Regions from separate parts of the Homo sapiens genome. Here region 2 is linked to region 1. The links come from fine-mapping of genetic effects on gene expression. A gene starts in region 1. The other region holds a variant in brackets. All regions are shown on one strand. Distances are from middle to middle. Region 1 holds the start of UBE2B (ubiquitin conjugating enzyme E2 B). Region 2 overlaps DDX46 (DEAD-box helicase 46).

Region 1 (2,910 bases):
CCCCAGCTCATGAGGGATATTTTTAAGATATAGTTTCTCTTTACCATTTTTCTCCATGTAACCCTACCTGTGTGTCTTCCTCCTTTGCTATTGGAAGGGTTAGGACTGCAATGGCAGAAAGGCAAAAAAATTAAGAATATTCAGCTTTTAACTTAAAAAACACATTGCGAATGTCTAACAGGACCTATCAAGAGTTAGGCCTGGCTAACCTGATCACCAAGGCAGTCACTGGAAGCAGAGAGGGAATTCAGGGTTTGAAGAAAGAGGTACAAGGAAAGTCAGAAAAGTTAACTCTGCTTCCATGGAATCAGGGGCAAGGCTGAGGCAATGTTAAGGTCCTCATTCCACCCTCCCTTTACCTGTTGAACTGAACAGTTCCCCAAATGGATACAAAAGTACTCAGAGTCCTTAGTATAACAAAGTCCTGAAGGTAGGAATTGGAAGCAATAGAGGGAAGGACGGTGACCACAGAAAATATTCAAGGTCTTTGGGAGGTCAACACCTCTGAACCCCCTGGTGGTGGGGGGCCCTTCTGGCCCATTTGCACCTTTCTTGCTAGTGTAGAAAACCTGAAGTTATCTCAGGCTAGATATATAACCCTCACTCATGTCTGCCGGAGCTCTCCCCCAGAATATGAATCATATTTGTAGGTTTCTTTGACAACCAACCACTCATTGATATGCTTGGAAGACTGCACCCCCACATTCCTTAAAAATACAATGGTACTCCCCCACCATAGGCAAGTCCCCGGACTCTGACACATATCTTCAATTGAAAGCAGACCCAGAAAGGAAAAACTGCATAATACACCATCCTTTAATATTTGCCCAGAATTTCCAATACTAGAAACCCCACTGCAAAGCAGAAAGACTATCTGGTAGCTTCAAGGAACCATTTCAGGAGATTGTTGTGTGGGCCTCAGTATTCAAGGCTGCCTTAGAAGATCGTGCGATCCTCTCACTCTTCTTGCCCCAAGTACCAGAGTTAATAAGCCACTGAACCAACCAGAGGGGAATTATTTTTGGTCCCGGTTTAAAGAAAACAAAACAAGCTGTTGATTCTGCCATGACCTCTTGGGTAATGTTGTCTCTATACCTGTGATAAACAGAAAACAACTAATAAAGGTTTATCCCGCCCTCACCCTCTTAAACCCGCTTCACAGACCTGGCTGAAACTCACATCCAGGCGAGGCGCTCACGTGACCCGTTCTAAACGCGTCATAGGGACACGTGGTTCTAGATACTTCTCCCCCTCCCACTCAGGGGTGGATTGTTGACAAGGCCGCGGGCAGTCACGTGATCTTACATCATCCCACCTCCTTTCCCTGAAATCTCTGGCCCGGATGCGTCCCTCTTTCTCCACCCCGCCGAGCCTAAACTAGTGACGGGGAGGGAGACGGGATAGTGTTTCTGTTTCGTGGTCTTTGAATCCACAACCTCTAGTCTGAACACAGAGAACACAAATTTGTCTATTACTTCAGGAAGCCCAGGGGGAACCGCGCCCCGCTGAAGGGCTCGGGGAAGGCGCGCTCCCGCGTCCCGCCCCCTCCTCCCCCAGCACTCACACTGTGGTAGCGGCGGAGGGCGGAGGGATCCGGAGGCGGCGGAGGGAGACGTCATTGCAGGGTTGTTTGTCAGTCTCGGCGGCGGCGGCGGCGGCGGCGGCGGCGGCGATCCACAGTGATTCGGCCGCCGCGCCGGGGGGTGGGGGGGCTGCGCGGGACTTTTTTTTTTTCAGACTGACCGCGGGGCAGCTGCGGAGCATGTCGACCCCGGCCCGGAGGAGGCTCATGCGGGATTTCAAGCGGTAAGGGCCTTCACCTTCGCCTAGATGACGGCCCCTCAAAGCTGCGGGGCTGCAGGGCGTGGATCCCAGACACCTTCCCCTTTGTGACCCTCAGAGGGCCGGCTGTGGGCCCAGCGGGACTGGCGGAAGCCGGGTCCTAGCCTCGGCCCTACTCCCATAAGCTTTGCCGCTCGTTCTGGCGCCCGAAGAAATTTTGATACTGCTTCCCCTCCCCACAAAAAGTAAAACGGTGTCGATCGACTGGTCTAGGGTTCCCTGCTGCCCATTTCGGCCAGCTGCCCGGCGTCTCGCCCAGGCGATCAGACATTATCCGCCCGCCCCTGCACCCTGCGGCGCCCCCTTCTTGTCCCCTCAAAGTGAGCTCCTGCGGGAGCTTGTTCCTCTCCGGCAGCACCAGTCAGCTTTGTTTCACGGCCCCGCCGTCTTCTCCGAGGAGCCGTGTTGGGGCGAACCCCTCTCCCGACTCCTGCCAATCCTTTCCATTTGTGCCCTGAGGGTGGGGTCCAGTGCGTGAGGCCCGGAGGTTAACCCATCCCCCGAAACCCGACTCTGTCCCCGCCCGCCTGAAAGGACCTTGGGAACTGACTTAGAGATCTGGGACCTTAGAGCTGGCCACCCCGGCTGCCAGTGCTTTCTGGAACTCAGCTCTGGCTGGTGAAGAAAGCCCCTATCTATAGCCTCCCGAGTCTGGAAAAATGCCTTCCCTTAGACTGGCGCTAATCTGATACTCCCTGGGCCTCCTTTGGTAAATAAAATAGGGTTTTGTTAGGAGGTATTGGGGTTGTGAGATAGAAAATGATTATTCCGTTGTTTACCTTTTATTGGATACTTAGAGACATAGAAAAAATAAGTGAGAAAACATCATTTTGATACTCTGCACATTTTTCTTAACATTTTTTCTGGGGACACCTGCCCTAATTGAACAAAATATCTAGCATAAAAACTTAGATTTGTCGCTCAGGAAGTCACCTCTCAGCTATTATAAAGCCTATGTGAGGCACTTGGATTTGGCCAACTTATTTAATTCATTCGTAGCTTCTCTTAGCCATTTAAAGGTAGGCGTCAAGCAGTGCAGTTCTTCTAAGGCTTCTGTTCGTGGTGGCC
Region 2 (2,910 bases), 400 kb after region 1:
ATCTCGGCTCACTGCAACCTTCGCCTCCCGGGTTCAAGTAATTCTCTTGCCTCAGCCTCCCGAGTAGCTGGGACTGCAGGTGTGTGCCAACATGCCCAGCTAATTTTTTGTATTTTTTAGTAGAGATGGGGTTTCACCGTGTTAGCCAGAATGGTCTCGATCTCCTGATCTCGTGATCCACCCGCCTCGGCCTCCCAAAGTGCTGGGATTAAAGGCGTGAGCCACCGTGCCTGGCCAGAAAAATTTTTAAATTGCTCTAGGGATATCTAGTATCCTTTTATGAAATAAGACTGCCTACCTTATTCTGTGTACAAAAAGCAATTCCAAGCAAAGACCAAATTAGATGGCAAAATTCTAAACCTTTTAGAAGTTTGTGCCAGAGAGTATCTTCTTCTTCACCTCTAGGTATCTTACATCAAATCTGGAAGGATTTCTAAACTACTTTAAAAAGCACCAATTATAAAGGAGAAAAAAGGTTGACTAATTTGATTACATTAAAATTAAGAAATTTTATTCATTATGAGATGCCGTAAGTTGGGGTGCGTAAACAAGTTGGGTTTATTCCAAGAATGGCAGGTTATTTTAACATTAAAAAATCATTAGAAGTCTGGGTGAAGTGGCTCACGCCTGTAATCCTAGCACTTTGGGAGGCCGAGGTGGATGGATCACGAGGTCAGGAGTTTGAGACCAGTCTGACCAACATGGTGAAACCTCGTCTTTACTAAAAGTAAAAAATTAGTCAGGTGTGGTGGCACACACCTGTGATCCCAGCTACTCGGGAGGCTGAGGCAGGAGAATCACTTGAAGCCGGGAGGTGGAGGTTGCAGTGAGCCGAGATTGCGCCACTGCACTCCAGCCTGGCCGACAGAGAGAGACTCCGTCTCAAAAAAATCCCCTAAAATCATTAGAACATTAGAACATTCGAAATGCATGTCCCTTGGGATTTTAAACGTTATTACATATATAAATTATCTTGCAGAATATTAATATATTGGTCTGTTTCTTCATTTATCACATTTTAACTATCCTACCTATAAACAAACTATATTGTTTGTATGTAGTATGTTCAGTTTTTCTTGGGTTGAATTTCCAAATATTTAGTAATGCTTCCCATTAGTGTCATGGGATTAATTTTTTTCGTTATATTTTCAAGGTTTTTTTTTTTTTTTTTTTTTTGAGGCAGAATCTTGCTCTGTCGTCAGGCTGGAATGTAGTTGTGCAATATCAGCTCATTGCAACCTCTGACTCCCTGGTTCAGGCTATTCTCCTGC[C/T]TCAGCCTCCTGAATAGCTGAGATTACAGGCACGTGCCACCATACCCAGCTGATTTTTGTATTTTTTAGTAGAGACGGGGTTTGTTTTTTTTGTTTGTTTTTTTTTTTTTTTTGAGGTGAAGTTTTGCTCTTGTCTCCCAGGCTGGTGGGCAATGGTGCAATCTCGGCTCACTGCAACCTCCGCCTCCCGAGTTCAAGTGATTCTCCTGCCTCGGCCTCCCACCCCTGAGTAGCTGGGATTACAGGCGCCTGCCACCAAGCCCGGCTAATTTTTGTACTTTTAGTAGAGACAGGGTTTCACCATGTTGGTCAGGCTGGTCTAGAACTCCTAACCTCATGTGATCCACCTGCCTCGGCCTCACAGAGTGCTGGGATTACAGGCGTGAGCCACCGCGCCCGGCCGAGTTGGGGTTTCACCATATTGGCCAGGATGGTCTCGATCTCCTGACCTCGTGATCTGCCTGCCTTGGCCTCTCAAAGTGCTGAGATTAGAGGCATGAGCCACCATGCCCAGCCTCCAGGTGTTTGTTAATGGAATATGAAAACACAGTTGACTCTTAGAAGTTTATTTCTTACCTAAATATTGGAATACAAGTCTAATAAGTGTACTTATGTATTTTTTGTTTTAATTTAATAGAGACGAGGTCTCACTGTATTATCCTGGCTGGTCTCGAACTCCTGGGCTCAAGTGATCTTCCTGCCTTGGCCTCCCAAAATACTGAGCTTACAGGCATGAGCCACTATGCCTGACCAAATTTTTTTTTTTTTTTTTTTTTTTTAAAAAGAGACAGGGTCTCACTTTGTCACCCAAGCTTGAGTGCAGTGATGGGATCATAGCTGACTGCAGCCTCGAACTACTGGGCTCAAGTGATCGTCTTGTTTCTGCCTCCTCAGTAGGTAGGACTGCAGGTGCACACCACCATACCCAGCTAATTCTTAGTATATTTTGGAAAGATTGGATCTTGTTATGTTCCCCTGGCTGATCTCTTTAACTCCTGTTTTCAATTGATCCTCCTGCCTTGGCTTCCCAAAGTGCTGGGTATATAAGTGTGAGGCACCTTACCCCACCTGTAAAAGTATTTTAAGGCCGGGCGAGGTGGCTCATGCCTATAATCCCAGCACATTGAGAGGCTGAGGTGGGCAGATCACCTGAGGTTAGAAGTTCAGGACCAGCCTGGCCAACATGGTGAAAACCTGTCTCTACTAAAAATACAAAAATTATATGAGTGTGGTGGCTGGCACCTGTAATCTCAGCTATTCGGGAGTCTGTGACAGGAGAATCGCTTGAACCCGGGAGGTGGAGGTTGCAGTGAGCTGAGATCGCACCATTTCACTCCACTCCAGTCTGGGCGACAGAGTGAGACACTGTCTCAAAAAAAAAAAAAAAAGTATTTAAAAATGAATGTTTCTAAGTACAAATGAATGACATTTCTCTTGTCTCTTTTATTTTTTTGGTAGATCTAGGTCCAAAGAGAAAACTGATGGTGGGGAAAGTTCTAAAGAGAAGAAAAAAGACAAAGATGACAAGGAGGATGAAAAAGAAAAAGATGCTGGCGTATGTTTATTAACTTAAAAATAATTTTCTTTCTTTCTTTTTGTCTTTCTTTCTTTCTTTTCTTTCTTTCCCTCTTTCTTTCTT

Evidence for each region. PIP is the estimated chance that this variant, and not a neighbour inherited with it, causes the effect.
Region 2: its variant is the best candidate, but not a certain one, in a credible set for the expression of UBE2B in whole blood (TOPMed, PIP 0.89).

What each region holds. Positions count from the first base shown.
Region 1 is chr5:134,369,834-134,372,743 of GRCh38, forward strand. It overlaps UBE2B (ubiquitin conjugating enzyme E2 B), which reads left to right and starts at 1,736. Exons shown (of 6, transcript NM_003337.4): 1 at 1,736-1,806. The coding sequence starts at 1,763. It also overlaps a transcript of CDKL3 not described here. RefSeq lists enhancers at 855-1,450, 959-1,028, 1,969-2,068 and a silencer at 1,499-1,548.
Region 2 is chr5:134,768,174-134,771,083 of GRCh38, forward strand. It overlaps DDX46 (DEAD-box helicase 46), which reads left to right. Exons shown (of 23, transcript NM_001300860.2): 4 at 2,730-2,826. Among named protein-coding and RNA genes, the nearest start is that of DDX46, 11 kb to the left of the region's middle. The variant C/T (reference allele first, on the strand shown) is at 1,272.